Regions from separate parts of the Homo sapiens genome. Here region 2 is linked to region 1. The links come from fine-mapping of genetic effects on gene expression. A gene starts in region 1. The other region holds a variant in brackets. All regions are shown on one strand. Distances are between the middles of the regions.

Region 1 (10,204 bases):
TTGAGGCAAGAACAGGTCTCCTGCCATGAAACCCAGGATGGTAGGAAAGTTGGTTGTCCACTTCAATCTCACTTTTCCCATTAGAGAAACCGTAAGACTGGGAGAAATTTTCCATTTGCCTGGTGCCAGGCAGACTGAGGTAAGGAGTGTCATGCTATGAAAGTCCAATTCTCTTACCATCTGCTTAGAGGTTTTTTCACTTCTCTGTGGTACTGGAAATGATCTCATCCTTATATCTGAGTTTTGGGATATTGTTGGTGATAATCTTAACATTGTGTATTTGTTTCCATTTTCTGGTGGTAAGGGAGAAGAAACAGCCAGCTTGCTTCTGTGCCACCATTTTGAAACACAATGTCAGGGTGCATTTTTGAGCTTGGTAGGGTTTTAGGGCTGCAGCTTAATGGTTAGCCCATTCGCAGTAAAAATCTTTGGTGGCAACTCTAATGCTGGGCAGAATAGGCGTCTATCTGTGAAACAGCAGCCCAGGCATTCCTCTGATGCTAGAGGGAATGAGCTGTAATGATCAGCTGCATTAGCTACACCCCCTCCAGGTCTCTGGAGAAGCCCTGCCTCTTGTCTTAAGAATACAACTTCACAGTGGATTGGATGAAGAAATATATACCATGGAATACTATGCAGCCATAAAAAAAACACATGTCCTCTGAAGCAACATGTATGCAGCTAGAGGCCATTATCCTAAGTGAACTAACACAGAAACAGAAAACCAAATACCTCATGTTCACACTTATAAGTAGGGACTAAACACTGGGGATACATGGACATAAAGATGGAAACAAGAGACACTGGGGGTACAAGAAGGGGAAGGGAAGGATGGGGGTTAGGGTTGGAAAACTACCTATTGGGTACTATGCTCACTATCTGGGTGACAGGTTTAATCATACTCCAAACCTCAGCATCATGCAATAAACCTTTGTAAGAAATCTTCACATGTATCCTCTGAATCCAAAATAAAAGTCAGAAAAAAAGACTACTTCAAGCCACAAGTGCTCAGCAACCACAGCTAATGTAGCACCCCCTAGATGTCTTGCCTGAAATCCAGCCCAGACAAGAATTCCTGAAGAATTCAGTCTCATTTAGGAGATAAAGTAACCTATATGAATCAATCAAGAATGTTAAATTGTGATGTTCTGCTGAAAAAGGAATTTAAAGAAGGAAGAGAGAAACGTGGACAAAATAGACAAAGAGGATTTCATGGAGGATTTGAACATTAGTTGGCCTTAAAGGATAAGTAGGAGTCAACAAGAAGCAGAGGGAAGAAATTTAAACAGAGAAGTAAAGAGGTAAACTATAAAAAGCTATGAACAGGTCAAAGCAGGGAAAATTTGGTTGGGAAAAAAAGTTTAGAACGACATCATATCATATTCATTCTTCCAAAAGACCACAAACAGCAAGGATTCAGAATCTGTTAAGATAAATAATAAATGTGGTTTTTATACAAGCAGACTTTTGTGACTGTGAACACTGACATACAGACTCTGTTTCTGCGAATACAAGTGTCTGTGAACACTGAAAATTGATAATCAGGGATTAATCCCTATTGTGACTCAGAAAAAAATAAATTATAAATAATTTGTTATAGTTTAAATTTTGTTAAAATAGATCATATAGCTAAGATTCCCAAAATAAATATATAAATACATGACCACTGCCATTTTGGAGAGATTTTCCTTAAGGAAATCATATAACTTTCCCTCTAATGAAATACTGTAATTTGAGATGCATTTTCTACATGGTTTTTGAGTGTCAAATATTGCTTGGCAGGTAACAAACTCTAAATACTAAAAGATCAACTTATCAACTTATAAGAGTGATGCAATTATTTAATTTTAGGTTAGAAGATGTATGCAACTACTTTATATAGAGGAATTCCTAAAAACTGTAGCAAAAATGAAAAAATCTTACCAACTATATATAGATAGATATACAATATATATACAGACACACATACACACAAGGTTGGTGGTTCACTACAACATGTTTGTAATAGCAAAAACAAGCAAGAAAACACACAGACACATACCCACACCTTGGAAACAACCAAGATGTCCCTTAATGAAGGGCCCACTAATTGTTCTGTACTACCCTTGTTCAATAAAATTTTAATGCATCATTAGCGATACAAAGAATGAGGTAGAGCTATATATGCAGATATGTAAAACTCTCCAAGACACATCGTTACATAAAAAGCAAGACACATTGCATAATAACACCACTCGCATAAAATTTTTAAAGTGTGTATATGTGTATATACGGTATTTCATCAATTCTAAGATGCATACTTTAAGAAGGTTTAATATGCAGCATTTTTTTGTTTCTCAGCATTTTTTTCTTTATGCAGTTACATAAAATACCTAATTTGCATGTACAGAATTGCAAAAAAATTGTAATCAGTAATAGTTTAGATTTGATAAAGTACATTATAAGCTTTCTAGGGAGAATACACAATAAATTATTAATAAGAATCACTCTGAGTGAAAGAAATTGAAGAAGGGAAGTAGAAGAAGAATTTTTACTTTCCAATTTCCTAACTTTCTGTATGGTTCTTTTCTAAAAAAAAAAAAAAAATCATGTGTACATTTTAGTTGTATTACATCTGTGCATATCATATACTGTAACATACAAACTCCTGAGCTCAAGCTCAGGAGTTTGAGACTAGCCTGGGCAACATGGAGAAACCCAGTCTTGACAACAAATGCAAAAAATTAGCCGGGCGTGGTGGCGTGCACCTGTAGTCCCAGCTACTTCGAGGGCTGAGGAGGGAAGATAGCTTGAGCCCAGGAGGTCAAGGCTGCAGTGAGCCAAGATGGCGCCACTGCACTCCAGTCTGGGTGACAGAGTGAGAACCTATCTTAAAAAATAAATAAATAAGACCTGAAATTCCCTACGAATCTACCCCCAAGCATTCACATTCTGCTGATGCAAAGCACACAGAGTGAATGTGGCATCAACACTTGTTCACTTTCTCTGGGTCCTTCTCTCCTTCACAGACAACTTGCTCTGTTGTGCAGGCTGGAGTACAGTCATGTGAGCACAGCTCATTGCAGTCCTCACCTCCTGGGCTCAAGCGATCCTCCTACCTCAGCCTCCCAAGTAGCTAGGACTAAAGGCGTACACAATCACACTTGGCTGTTCTTTTTTGGTTTGGGTTTTGGTTTTTCTGTAGAGATGGGATCTCACTATGCTGCCCAGGCTGGATGCAATCATTTTCAATTCCCACCATCCCTTCTTAAGTTAAATTTTAAGGATTCAGTGAACTTCTGCAAAGTCAACAAGAAATGCATCCTGGTTATTTTCAGGAGCATTTCCAGGTGTTGAACTCCTCCCCTCCTAGGAATACTACAGTAAGTGAGCAAGTTGCATACCTGTGTGCTGGGTACAGCCAATTCAACCACACCCTTTTCTCTTGCACCCATTTCTGTAACCCTATCCCAAATGCATTAGTTCATTCAGCAATATTGAACGTCTTCTGCATGTCTGGCCACTGTGGCTACATAAAAGACTAAGGACTTCTCCAAAGCAAAATGCACAATCAAATTGGTGTGACAGACTATTGAATACAACACAAGATGGTCAATGTCAATGACAGGTGAATTAACGAAGGGCTAAGAGAGCTTAGCAGGCAGCAAAACTTCTGAAAAACAAAAAAAGAAAGAAAGAAAACTTGACGGAGAAGGTACCACCCGAGTCGGGTCTAAAGAAGAGTTGTCAGGAGAGGATGGGAGAGAGAAACATTATAGGCAGAAGGTGGGAACAGTGGCGTACAAAAGCAGAGAAGCAAAAAGAGGCACAACTATCTTGGGAAAAGTGGTAAATTCAGTGATGAGACTTTTGGGCTAGAGGGGAATGAGAAGGGTAGAGGAACGGGAAATAAGCCGGAGGGAGAGGCATTTTTTTTGTTTTATTTTTGAATTTTTAAAAATATATAGGTATATGGCCGGGCGTGGTGGCTCATGCCTGTAATCCCAGCACTTTGGGAGGCCGAGGTGGGCGGATCACAAGGTCAGGAGATCGAGACCATCTTGGCTAACACTGTGAAACCCCGTCTCCACTGAAAATACCAAAAAAAATTAGCCGGGCGTGATGGCGGGTGCCTGTAGCCCCAGCTACTCGGGAGGCTGAGGCAGGAGAATGGCTTGAACCAGGGAGGCAGAAATTGCAGTGAGCCGAGATCGCACCACTGCACTCCAGCCTGGGCGGCAGAGTGAGACTCCGTCTCAAAAAAAAAAAAAAAATATATATATATATATATATATATATATATATATATTTATTTATTTATTTATTTATTTTAATAGCTTTTCGGGTACAGGTGGTTTTTTTACATGGATGCATTGGATAGTGGTGAAGTCTGAGACTTCAGGGTCATCCAGGTAGCATACATTGCAAGCGATATGTAGTTGTTTCATCCCTCACCCCCCTCCCACCCTTCCCCTTCTGAGTCTCCGAAGTCCACTATACCCCTCTGGATGCCTTTGCGTAGCAATAGCTTAGCTCCTACTCATAGGTGAGAACGTGCGGTATTTGGTTTTCTAGTCTCAAAACGGGGAGTGGGTGTGAAGTCACTTAGATGTCCAGTGTAGAGACTGACAAAGGGTAGTGACTCAGCTGGGGTTTTGAAGCAGGGGTTCCCTGGGTTCAACTAACAGAGGTGGAGGACTGAACTGTAGCGTGGATTCCAGTCCCCTAAAAAGAAGGAAAGTGGGCGGGGAACCCGGCTGCATCAGGGCCTCCCGGACAGGGGCCGGGCGCTCACAGCGCGCTCCGACCAAGTACTCACCAGCCGCTCTCTGGGCCCCGATGCCCCGACCACTCAGCCCACTGAGGCCGGCCCCAGCGGTTGCGCTGCCCCGGGGGAGCTGCTCCGGCCTCCGCGGCCCGGAACGAGGCTGACGGTTGGGAGTCCGAGACAGGCTCGCTCGGGGGCGAGGGCTCCGCAGTGCGCAGCTCCCTACGGGGAGCGACTGGAGGGGCACGGGCAGCCCCCGCGCTCCCCAATAAAGGATGCACCCACCGAGCCCGAGGACTGAAACATTGTTTAGGGGACCCCAGGCACTGAAGGGCGGGTTCCTGGAGATGGACATTTGGAGTGCGGTGCCAGGGGCTTGGGAGGATTCCCGCGTATACGTGGTAATACGGAAATATATAAAATAATGTTTTCTATGACCTTTACAGTTTCTGAAGTTACTTAGTGTTTTCCTTGAGAACCTAAAAAGTGTTTCCTGGTGAGTCAGTGTGTTCAGAAACCTGTGACTGATGAGAGAGAAAGATTCTGGGGGAAAACTGACTTCTCTCCCAAGTCCACCCCCTCCCCTCTCTAGTACGGTTCTGCTTTTGCTGTGACTGCCTGACATGATGTGAGCGGTCCGTTTTTAGTTGGGTGTGTTAACCAAAGAAAAAAAAATCAGTCATTTAAATAATTAATATTAGTTTTATTCAGATGTCTTACTAAGGATTGCAATCCGGAGAGTCTTTCAGAGACTTTCTGTGAGACTGCTCCAAAGCTTAGGTACAGGTGGTGGCATGTGATGGGAAGTGGCATCAGATGTGCTCAGCAGTTACATCAAATGAGCTCAGCAGTTACATTAGAGCAAAATCTCATCAAGGGTGGGGTTCAAGGGTACATCTGGTTATAGATTGTAGAGGCATAATCATTAATCCTATCAGCTATTATCTTATTATGTACAGGAAGAGGCATGAGTTAGGATCCTGGAACTTTTGCAAGAAAAGATTCATGCAAGAGATGTTATCATCTTCAGGGGCATTCTTCCAGGGGCTGCACTTAGTCACTGAGTTAGGGGATTTGTGAAATGTAGCTGCCAAAGAATTCTCTGACATTCTGCTGGCAAGCAGAATGAGCAAATATAGCTTCTTACATAAACTATTTTGTCTTACAGGTGTGAAAGTCAGTCTTTGAATGTAGAGCAGATCAATGTGGAATGAGGACTGAAAGGTCTGTCAACTGAAAAAAAAAACAAGAATGAATATAAAAAATCACAAATTAAATAAACCATGGTCCATCCATATTAATAGACATTACTCAGTGATTATACAATATAAGCTTATGGGAGCAAGGGAGTTCCTGAATATCCTTGCTGACTGTGCCGAAATGCAAGACCTACCTACCCTCTAACTCTGAGCCACTTCCTTAACCAATCTTTAGGCAACTCAGCAGGCCACAGCAACCACGGCACGAAAAGGCACAATTGCTCACTTCCTGGGGAGAGGGACTAGCTTGTTTACTGCTCGATACAAAAGATACTGAGCACTTAGCCCTAGATTCTTTACCTGCCTCCCAGTCCACTGCCTGCATCTGGGTCCACGGGGTTGCCCATTGGGACTTGGGGTTGGGGGAACCGGCCTCCCATATGATACTCCTGCCATTTGTTGAGGTAGTGTTGAGGACAAGTGCTCTACCTCTTGTCCATCGAATCTCATTGTTTACTTTTGGCACTGATGGAGCTGGGGCAGGTTTTATACTTGCCTTCTTTTCCTGTCCCTATGCTGTCTCTCTATTCTCATGTAGTAAGAAACAAACCAGAATACCATATTCCTTAATAAAGAGCCTTAAATATATTCATTCATATGCCTTAACCTACAAATGCCTCTTTTGAAAATATATTCCTAAGAAATAATACTAAATATGGACAGAGCTTTGGTTCTAAAGACATGTGTTGCTGTATTAGGTTTGTAGCACCGTGATCCATGCAATAGTTTCATTAACTCTGGCAGAAAACTAGCTTCATGGAATACTGCCAAATGATAGCAACCCTGAGAATGCCTGAGATACAGGAAAACTGTACCTTCCACAGAGTTCTCTTGAGGCTTAACAGAAGGTAAACCCCATGCAGCACTTATATAAGACATTAAGTGCCCACGATCCTGAGTATTAAGTGTCCCCGAAAATACAATGAGGGAACACATATAAAAACACTTAGCACAGTAGTACATGGTAATGGCTAAATCAATGCTAGCTGTTATTTGTAGTAGTTTAGTATTAGTGTGTGTAGTGAAGAAAAATACTGAACCGGTAATCAGGGAAACTGAGTCCTGTTACTGTGCTACTCAACAAATAACCGTTTAGTCGACTAAGCCTCAGATTGTGAAACTGCTCTATTACTGGATGTCCTTATTTGTAAAAAGAAATGGGGGAGTTGAGATAATCTCTAAGTTCCCTTCCAGTTCGAAAAATGTCTAACTCTATGACGAGTTTGGTTTCAAGCCTCATCAATTGAGAGGAAGATGATACTATTGACCGAAATAAAAATGTCAAAACAACCAATTGGAAATGTCTAGGTGTTGTAGGGAATATGCAATTAAGGTGCACAGATTAGCAATATTTGCTATGTTATAATTATCCTAAAGTACCACATGGTCATATTATCAAATAACAATTTAAGTAACCAGTTATTCAAGTAAAACATATATAATATTAAATAACTATCCACAGCTCATTCCTTTGAGCTTTTCTTGAAGGATTATCAGTTTGTGGCTGTAATGGCACATTTATATCTTGTTTAGTGTGGTCCATTCTACTTGCAAACAAAAATCTCTGCCAGTGCAGAAACCTGAAAAACCTGACAATAAGAACCTAAGCAACTGTGAACCCAAAAGTATCTGAGACAGGTTGCAATCAATTCAGAAAGTTTATTTTGCAAATATTTTGCTAACGTTAAGGATGGACCCATGACATAGCCTCAGGAGGTTCTGATGACATGTGCCCAAGGTGGCCAGGTTACACCTTGCTTTTATACATTTTAGGGAGACATAATACATGGGGGTGGGCCTTCCAGGCCACAGGTAGATTTAAAAATCTTCTGATTAGCAATTGGTTGAAAGAGTTATTATCAATAGAAAGAAATGTGTGGATTACAATAAGGGGTTGTGGAGATCAAGGTTTTATCATGCAGTTGAAGGGTCCAGGTAGCAGGCTTCAGAGAAAATAGATTGTAAATGTTTCTTATCAGACTTAAAGAGTGTCTTACCAGTAATTCCAAGAGGGATGAGGGTATAATGAGGCATGTCCAACCCCTCCTTCCATCATGGCCTGCACTAGTTTTCAACCTATCTATTTTCCTATGGTTGGACATTTAGCCTTTATCAATTTTTTCTTCCTTTTTTTTTTTTTGCTATTCAAACCATGTCTCTTATACATGTCTCATGGAGTGCAGACACAATAACCCTTTTCATACCCTTGGCTGAGGGGAAGGGTCCATTCAGATGGTTGGGGCGGCAGGGTGCAGGGGGTTACAATTTTATTTTTGGTTTACACAACTAATAAGATGATGTTCATTAAGGAAAATAAATGTAATCATAAAAGTATTTTAAACATATTCTCAGATTTCCTAATCTTAAATTATTACCAATGAAAAAGAAAAGCCATGTATACGTCCCTTGTAATGGGTTGAATTGTGTACCCCCCACAAAATATGTCCAAGTCTTTTTTTTTTTTTTTTTGAGACGGAGGTCTCACTCTGTTGCTCAGGCTGGAGTGCAATAGCACCACCTCAGCTCACTGCAACCTCTGTTTCCCTGGTTCAAGTGATTCTTCTGCCTCAGCCTCCTGAGTAGCTGGGACTACAGGTGCACAACATCACGCCTGGCTAATTTTTGTATTTTTGTAGAGACAGGGTTTCACCATGTTGGTCAGGCTGGTCTTGAACTACTGACCTCAGGTGATCTGCCGACCTTGGCCTCCCAAAGTGCTGGGATTACAGGCATGAGCCACCGCACTCGGCAATATGTCTAAGTCCTAATTACCATGACCTGTGAATGTGACCTTATTTGGAAAAAAAAAATCTTTGAAGATGTAATGAAGTAAAAAATCTCAAGGTGAAATTGTTGGGGTGATCAGACCCAACACCAGGCCGTGGGGGCTACAAAGTCCAGCGGAGTCAAAGGTCTAGTGGGAACCAGCCCCGCCAGCAACATGGATTCTCTTTCTTATCCCAGGTGGGTCAAACAGAGATGAGTTTGTGAAAGCTGGGTCCAGGGGGATCACCGCAATGTGGAGCTGCAATGTCATCCAAGCACTGGAATAGCCAGCATTTATTATCAGTTTACATGTGGGAGGGGGAGCAAGGGCAGTGAGCAGAGGGTGGTCTGATCATGGGGTGAGAGGATCACATGATTATAGGGTGAGGTCCACAGTAAAGATGTACGGATATACGGAACTGTGAGTTCCAACTGCTAGTTGCATGCATCAGCAATTTAATAGGATCAGGCTTTAACTATAAACTATGTTTAAGATGGTTGCGCAGTAGGCAAGTAAGAACGGGACATGAAACCAGACGACCAGTCTGACCACAATTCTCCCTGGGGGAGGGGCCCCTGGGCAGGCCTAGGAGAGTGGTGGGAGAAGAAGAGCTTTACGCCCTTATCTCAACCACTGAAGCTTTCACTTCCAAACAGACATCCCTCATGCATCCATTTATAGGCTCTCCATAAGGGATGCATTCCTCTCCCAGGGCCTTAATACTTATGCCTTCCTGAGAAAGGAATATGGGTGATGTGTCACCTCCCATCCTGCATGTCCGTCTATAGGCTCTCTGCAGGGGAAAGCACATCAAACGCTGTTAACTCTCACTGGCAGCCAAACCTCATGGTGACTGGCTCAGTCCTTCATTATTGCTTTAATAACCTGATTACTGTTTAACAATCAAGCAATCATCATTATACAAAGGCAAGCATTCTACTAGAAAAACAACACAGCAATTTAGAAAGTTATATGTAGTTCTTTTTTTTTCTTCTGACTTCATTCTAAAATTGCTTACACAAACACTTCCTAAAACTGTCCCTCCATTTCTCCCCAGTCCGGGGTCCTGGGCTTTGCCCATACAAAGGAATGAGAAAAGACAAGTTAAGAGTGCATAAGGTGGGTCCGGGGGCCAATGCTGGTATGGAGGCTGAAAAAGCCCTGAGCTCTGGGATCCTACACTATTTATTGGTGATCAAACAAAGAAGCAGGTGGTGAGGACATGTGGATGTGGGGGTAAACAGGTGAGGGCGTGAGGACATGGGGGTAAACAGGTGAGGGCGTGAGGACGTGGGGGTAGAAAGGTAGCGGTGCATGAAGCATAGCTGTGATGGTTTAGCATTTTCTTTGACACATATAGAATATACTCTGCTGCTTGAGATAATGGAGAACATGTTTACGAGCCTGGGAGAGCAACCAACAAGTCTGTGC
Region 2 (8,000 bases), 68 kb before region 1:
TTACAAGCGTGCACCACCACACCCAGTTTCGTCATGTTAGCCAGACTGGTCTTGAACTCCTGACCTCAAGTTATCCACCCACCTCGGCCTCCCAAAGTGCTGGGATTACAGGCATGAGCCACTGCACCCGGCAGTACATGTTAATGTCAGTTTTTGCCTACCATTTTCATTTTGTTAGATTTTACTTTGCCGCACTAGTGAACTTTAATTGAAATAATGCTCCTTTTTGCCCCACAATGTTGAGAATCACCTCTACTTGTATTGTATAGTCACCCCACTTTATTAATTTATATCTTATAAATATTCTAGGATAAGTATATTATAAAATTTAATGCACAAGATCTATAAAATTATATTAAGAATAGTTTTTGAAACTTGCTATTTCGTCAGTCATTATCCAGAAACCTAAATCTGATTTCTGATAATCTTCTCACTTTTTGCTTTCCATTTCCAATCTTTTCTTTGGTTTGCAAGTCAGTATTTTAATTCTATCAAGAATCAACATATTAACAAATTTTCCCTCAATGCCATGAAGCATAACTGCAGGGATATATATATATATATACATATTTTTTTTACCAAAAAACTCCTTCAAAAATAATTAGAAAACATAATCTATCTTACCTGCAAATACAGTTTGTCTGCTTTCAATTTACTTTCCAATTTTAGCAATCTCTTTGCCTGTTCTGGTACATCCAACTTCATTTTTATCATACACTTAGTTTCCCGAACAACTTCCAAAATTTTGGGATCGAAATTAACCAGCAACTTCCCTGTTTCTGGATGTCGCACAAAAAGCGTGGCTTGTAAAGCTACAAATAAATAATGATTGACATTACTCATTCTGAATTTCCTTTCTGCTTCCAGCTGTGTTTATATTTCTGTCTTGCCCCCTGGATTACTAACTTCTTGAGGGCAAAGGAAATGTTTTGGATGCCCCAGGTGCTAAGGCACAGCGTCTGGCACATAGTGAATACTCAAAACTAAGATAAATGAATGAAGAGTGTCTGCAAAGCCACAAAATCAGATCCAGGGAGAGAAACATTGACCAAGAATGGTGCTTTGTGCTATGAATTGCAATATTTTTCTGAGTGGGTTGAATAGGTCTATGTCAGTTTATCTTATGGATTATGACTTCACCCCTGAGAAAGAACCAGAAGATGGTTAGAATCACAAAAGATGCCCCACCTCATTTCAAACTCTTTCCCACTCAGACCCCAAACTGTCTTCTTTAAAGAGGCTTATTTAAATTAAATCTCCATCCTGTATTTCTGATAAATAGGCTCAAAATCAGTAAGAAATATTTATTAAATACCATTGAGTTGTGAAATCCTGGAAAGGAGGGAAGATGTTTTACACTACATCTCACATAAACATCATTCATATAAACAAGCATTTTCAGATATCTATTTTATTATGAATTGAAATACATAAGCCCAAGCAGTTCTTACTGGGTAGCCTTAGATTATTTGTTAGCTTAACATGAAGAACTTCTACAGGCATAATAATAAAACACTTATTATAGACAAGCATGTGCTAGTTTGAATTACATCTTGTATTAACAAACACTACTAACATGAGAATTTTATCACAATTACCAAATCTTCCAAACCTCACATTGTTTTGTTGAATGTGGCCACATCAAACTTCTAGTAAAATAAAATAGTTTGTATATCTCTTTGAAGTTAGTTGACTTTTACTCATCAGATAAAATTAGTCTTGATATGGCCCTTAATGATGCAGGTTTTCAAGCTAAATGACAATTTCAACTTAAAATTTTATCCAACTCGCTTAGAATCTTTTTAAGATGGATTAGAAATCACTTATCCTAACAGAAAACCAAGCACTGCATGTTCTCACTCATAAGTGGGAGTTGAACAATGAGAACACATGGACACAGGGAGGGGAACGGCACACACCAGGGCCTGTCGGGGGGTGGGGAGCAAGGGGAGGGAAAGTATTAGGACAAAGTACCTAATGCATGCGGGGCTTAAAATCTAGATGACAGGTGGACAGGTGCAGAAATCCCAGAACTTAAAGTAAAATAAAAATAAATAAATAAATAAATCACTTATCCTACCAAGGAAATTCCAAAAGAACTTTTGAACATTTAAATCTGTCTTCCTTAAAACTGTACTGAGCTTGCTTGAAAAGACAAAAAGGTCAAGACAACTAAAACAGACCAATAATGACAGTCAGGAAGTCTGCTCCAGGACAAGACAAGCATTTCATCGTATGTGAACCACCATCAGAGAAACTTTACTGAGCAACCAACTAAAGGAGGCTGATGCTACATATCCAATTATTACTAGAAGCTCCTATGTGGCCAAGTACAGTCACATCACTAGGACAAAGGAAGCCTTCCAGAGCAATTCATTTCTGAAATGAAATGAAAGAAGTTAAAGAATTCTACTGACTGTTTGTTTTACTTGTGAAAAAACACGAAAGAATTCTACTTCATATTGAAAGTATGAAAGAATTCTACTTCATATTGTTTGTATGTGATCACTTCTCCTGGACATCAATCCACTGCAATGAGTATAGTGCACCCAATAGAGGCCAACTGATGTTCTCAAGGGGAACAAACTCTTCTGAAAACTTGATAAAATTATTACTCATCAAGATTGTCTAATGTCTACTTATTGGACATTTTTAAAATATTTTAAGAGCCCCCAAGCATGCCTGGCATCATTCTTGACACTGTTAGAAACAGTACAGTATTTTAAATGGTTAAGAGAACGGATTTGGAAGCCAGACTATCTGAATTTGAATGAGCTGTGTGATCTTGGGCAAGCCACTTAATGTGTCAGTGTCTCAGTTTTCTCATCTGTAAAACAAGGCTAATAATAGTTCCTTGTAGGTTTGCTGTTAGGATTAAAGTAATTTGCATAATACATGTAATGTGCTGAGACAAAGCCTGGCACATGGTGAGCACTGTATAAATGTTAGCTATGACCATTTTTTAAAGGATATCAGATGAAACAGACATAGAGGGTAACCTTGGAAGGTGTAGGGGACACAAGGTAGATCTATAAAGCAGTAAGTGTCCTGAGAAAGAGCTACAGATAAAGTATATGGTGGGCTCTGGAGGAATTATTATTTTCTGCCAGGAAGAATAAGGAAAGGCTGTATGAAACAGGTGACTGTAGAGCTTGTTTTTGAATATGTGCAGATAAGAGAAAGGGTATTGGGGGTAGAAAAACCACCAGGAGAAAAAGAAAATTAAGTGCGCGGCATTGTAGAACCAAAACAAAACCAGTATATGCTTCAGTTGTTAAAAATTCTCTTTTGCCTTTTTCCATAGTCTGAGTTTTAAGCTCCTCTCGAAGCTCCTTTGAGAGTTCTGCTCCATAAACAGGCTTTCTTTAGAGTCCACAGGGTCCTACCATATAGCACAGCACCCAGAAACAGCTGGCCTGATAAAAGTGGCTTATTAAAGGCTTACCTACGGTTCCTGTTAGGGACGACACCCTGCGGGGGTTGGGGCACTGTCCTCTAGGATGCAGGTATGCTGTGAATCAATGGCCTGTAAATAAGTGCTGTGTCCCCACACAGCTAAAATACATGAGTTCTGGAACCAAGAGGCAGAAGTAGGAGTGACTCCTCTCACCACCGTTCCAGCAACCCACCTGCAGAACTTGTGCTTCCTGCGCCTGCAATGCTGTGCTCTGCTGAGGTGGAGACGCTGGTTTGGGAGGGAGAAACCTTTCTACCAAGGGACCCAGTAAGGGGTCCACCAAGGTCACGTATAAGAGTTTAGGGTTGAGATTATAACTAAGAGTTTAAGGTTAAGATGAGACAAAGCAGGAATCTGAACTGACCAACCATTGAGCCCACACAAAAACAACATCCAGGAGGGCTGGATAATGGCTAAGAACCATCCCGTCTCACATTTAACTCCGCCCAAAGCCTTGGCAACACATAAGCCCTCCCCTCAGAGGCACGCAGACACAGTGCACTAAAACGCTTCATTTACTGGAGCTCAAACCTGAAATTAAATTCAGTAATAAAAAAGGGAGAAAGTAAAGGAGAGACACAGGAAGGAAGGGAAGCAGGGAGAGAGGAAAGAAGGCAGGATGCAATTTTTTCTCTCCAGAATGGGACTGAGATTTGAATCTATATCATGATACAACTGAATATGAACACTTTCATAAAGTCTGGAGAAATATCCCTAAAGATATTTTTACTTTCAAATACTGGTTTTTGGTAGAAAGTCCTAAGTTAAGTATGTCATCTTCAAGGTCATGATCATTTTCACTTATAAAATCAGAATATTATTAACAACTGTAAACAAATAAACCACTGTAGCATCCCTAAATCTAAATTGTAACTATCCTAAGATTATGTGGAAGGGATGGAAAAAGTTCTCCAGAACTATGAACTCATTCAAAATCACCTAATCCCTACTTTGTAGGCTCATGGCAGTGTTATACACACCGTAATGCAACTGTGAAATCTCTCTGA[T/C]CCAGGCTGTGTGATAGACCACCTCGAATTCCACCAGCACATAGGAGATCTTGTTATACTGACGGATGACAGCTTTACCGTCCGGACTTGATAAAATGTCTGAGTTTTTCTGTTTTTTTAAGGGAAAAGATTTACTTTAAAAGACTGCTGAATGTTTTTATATCCAAATAATGAAAGTACTTATATGTAAAATGATATCAAATAATTATGCTACCAGTTTAGATTCTGCCTCACAGTAAAACAGAGATGGGGAAGGCCATATCAGCAAGAAGCAGAAGTAGGGAAACGTTATCAGTATATAGAGGGAAGACTGGAAAAGGAAACAAAGGGTTTAGAAAGAGAGAGGCCTCCAGCCCCACAGCCTGCCCCAGGCATTCAGTGTCTCTACCTCCTTTTCTGATCCCATCCCACTGTTCTGGACAAGATATAATTGACTGATGTTCCTTGAACCATGAATAACAGGGCAAATTCCTAAATTCCAGCACGCAAAAAAAGGTAACCATGTATCAAACGATAAAAATAAAATTTCTTGGCCGGGTGCCGTAGCTCACGCCTGTAATCCCAGCACTTTGGGAGGCCAAGGCAGGTGGATTACCTGAAGTCAGGAGTTGGAGACCTGCCTCGCCAACATAGTGAAACGCTGTCTCTCTAAAAATACAAAAAAATTAGCCAGGCATGGTAGTGGGTGCCTGTAATCCCAGCTACTCCAGAGGCTGAGGCAGGAGAATTGCTTGAACCCAGGATGCGGAGGTTGCAGTGAGCCGAGACTGCGCCACTGCACTCCAGCCTGGGCGAGAGAGCAAAACTCCATAATAAATAAATAAATAAATAAATATTTAAAAAATAAATAAAATTTCTTTATTTAAAAATCAAAAGATTTAGGTTTCGATTCACATGTCAAACAGGGCAATCTCTGCCCTCTCACCACAAAGTCAATCAGCAACTGAGTCCCCCGAGTAGGGACTCAGGGTTTTAATTTTTTTTTGATATTCAGAACAATGACACAAATGATGGCAGCAAAAGAGAAACAACAGAATCTTCATATTTAATAATGCTGAAATAATACAATTACTTGCAAAACTACTGTTTTGTAGTTATATTGTTCTATATTTCAGCAAAGGGCACGAGATCAAGCAAACCAACTCCACCTTGTGACTCTGTCTCTTAAATAAAATTTAAGAAAATAATAAGGACAAAGAAAAGACAAACTGGCAATTTCAGAATGCCAACAGGGCCCAAGACTGTCCTGTTTTTCAGAAATCTAATAATCTGAAGGACATAGAGAATGAATCAACTGTATTATATTCCGCTCTCAGTGGCAGTTCTTCATACAGGAATACACTCTTTGGCTTTATCTTCACCTTCACTGAGTATGTATCAGTGACCTATCTGCCCATACACAGAAGTAAGCTTCTGTGCTAGGCCTGTACTTTATTGTTTTCAAATTTTTTATTTTTACTTTTTAAAAGGCTTTACAAAGTGTCCTGTGTTATTAAAAGACATAAAATTATAAGATTCACTGACTTTGAGATAACTGTAATTAGACTGGCTTATCTACTAAACCTGAAGGAATTGACTTTGTCTCTCTCAAGTATATTTATAAACTAAATTTTCCTTGCCTGGTAAAAGAATTGGCTCGTTGTTGGCTACTTTAATGCACACAAATATTATAGGATATGATATATTTGTTATATTAAAACCACCAAAATCCACATATTAAAATTTAATTCTTGGCTTACAAAGAAATAATTGATGGGCTCACTTATCCGGCGATAGAGCTGCCTCACCCAGAGTATTTTTCCTGCTATAGGGGGCATGTTGCGAGCAAGAGGGGGGTCATCTTTCTGAGAATGATAAAGCTGTAATTAAAAATCTGATGTTAATGTTTGAATTCAATACAAGGGAGAAGGCAAAAAATATATACAGCTATATTTGTATTGTTTTATCATTATTCATGTTTTATATACAGTAGGTAGTCAATAAATATGTAAATGCACATCCAAGGTAACCTGAGATTTTGAAACAATGATGTTGACCATATACGACACTTAATTTTCTCTTCACCTTTATTTCCTATTACATGTATTTTTTTTCTGCCCTTATCCCAAATTTCAAGGAGGTATTCAAACGGAGCACATAGCTACATATTAATATCTGTCATAATAGTATCTAGAGCCCATATTTCTATAGGCAAAAATACTAACTTAAACGGGCTTTGCTATACACACACCAGAAAACGGGGGCAATATGATAGTTTTTTTTTAACTTTTATTTTAAGTTCAGGGTTACATGTTTGTTTGTTTGTTTGTTATATAGGTAAACTCGTGTCATGAGGATTAGTTGTACAGATTTTTTCATCACCCAGGTGTTAAGCTTAGTGTCCATTAGTTGCTTTTCCTGATCCTCTCCCTTCTCCCACCCTCCAGTAGGCCCCAGTGTCTACTGTTCCCTTCTTTGTGTCCATGTGTACTCAATGTTTAGCTCCCACTTATAAGTGAGAACATGTGGTATTCGGTTTTCTGTTCCTGCACTAGTTGGCTTAGGATAATAGCCTCTAGCTTCGTCCATGTTCCTGCAAAGGACATGATCTCATTCATTTTTTTTTTGGATGCATAACATTCCATGGTGTATCTACCACCTTTTCTTTACCCAGTCTACCATTGATGGGCATTTGGGTTGATTCCATATCTCTGCTATTGTGAATAGTGCTGCAATGAACATATGCGTGCATGTGTCTTTATGACAGAATGATTTGTATTCCTTTGGGTACATACTCAGCAATGACAAAAACAAACAATGAGAAAAGGACTTCCTACTCAATAAATAATGGTGGGATAACTGGTAAGATCACAGCAAAGAGGAGTAAATCTGGCTGTCCAGCAATATACACTGTCAAGCACCTTCCCACACAGAAGGGAGCGTCAATGCTCCTTAGCAGAGAAAGAATCACTCTGAAAAGCTTGGCATGAGACAATGATGGCAAATATTTTCAGATTTTTTTTCTTTTTGTGCTAATGTACCATTTTATTTATAAACATGACACTTGCCTTCTTAGTAGCATCAAGTTCAGCCACATAGTACTGAAGAATACGCTCTATTGTGTGGTTTATTTCTAATCCCAGACAGGGAATGTTCAGCTTCTGAAACCTAAAAGTAATCAAAGCTGAATGGTTAAAAAGTAAATGAGAAATATACTTAAGACTTGCTGTCATACTAACCATCCATTCATTCATTTGACAAATATTCATACCAGCCCTCATTCGTTGTCCTAGGACAAAGCAATGAACGAGATAGGAGGTACAGTCCTGGTTCTCTTGGAACCCACAATTATCTTATGGAAAAGACAGACATCTGCCAAGAGTAACAAAAATAATTATTTAAATTACAAATGGGTCAGAAATGCCTATAACTAAGAGAGACCTAGACAAGTCTGGGGATTCAAGTAAGACACCCTGAGAAAATGACAAACAGATTACAAGATGAGTGAGGAGATGGCTTAGCAAAGATGGAAGAGAACACATTGACTCTCCCTCTGC

What was found. PIP is the estimated chance that this variant, and not a neighbour inherited with it, causes the effect.
Region 2: its variant is fine-mapped to the expression of DNAH8 in testis (GTEx, PIP above 0.99).

What each region holds. Positions count from the first base shown.
Region 1 is chr6:38,710,010-38,720,213 of GRCh38, reverse strand. It overlaps DNAH8 (dynein axonemal heavy chain 8), which reads right to left and starts at 4,903. Exons shown (of 93, transcript NM_001206927.2): 1 at 4,799-4,903. DNAH8-DT (DNAH8 divergent transcript) reads left to right here and starts at 4,999. Exons shown (of 2, transcript NR_186581.1): 1 at 4,999-5,148; 2 at 5,916-6,044. RefSeq lists a silencer at 4,867-4,916.
Region 2 is chr6:38,779,577-38,787,576 of GRCh38, reverse strand. DNAH8 (dynein axonemal heavy chain 8) reads right to left here. Exons shown (of 93, transcript NM_001206927.2): 15 at 7,512-7,611; 16 at 6,204-6,323; 17 at 4,438-4,573; 18 at 625-812. Among named protein-coding and RNA genes, the nearest start is that of DNAH8, 68 kb to the right of the region's middle. The variant T/C (reference allele first, on the strand shown) is at 4,465.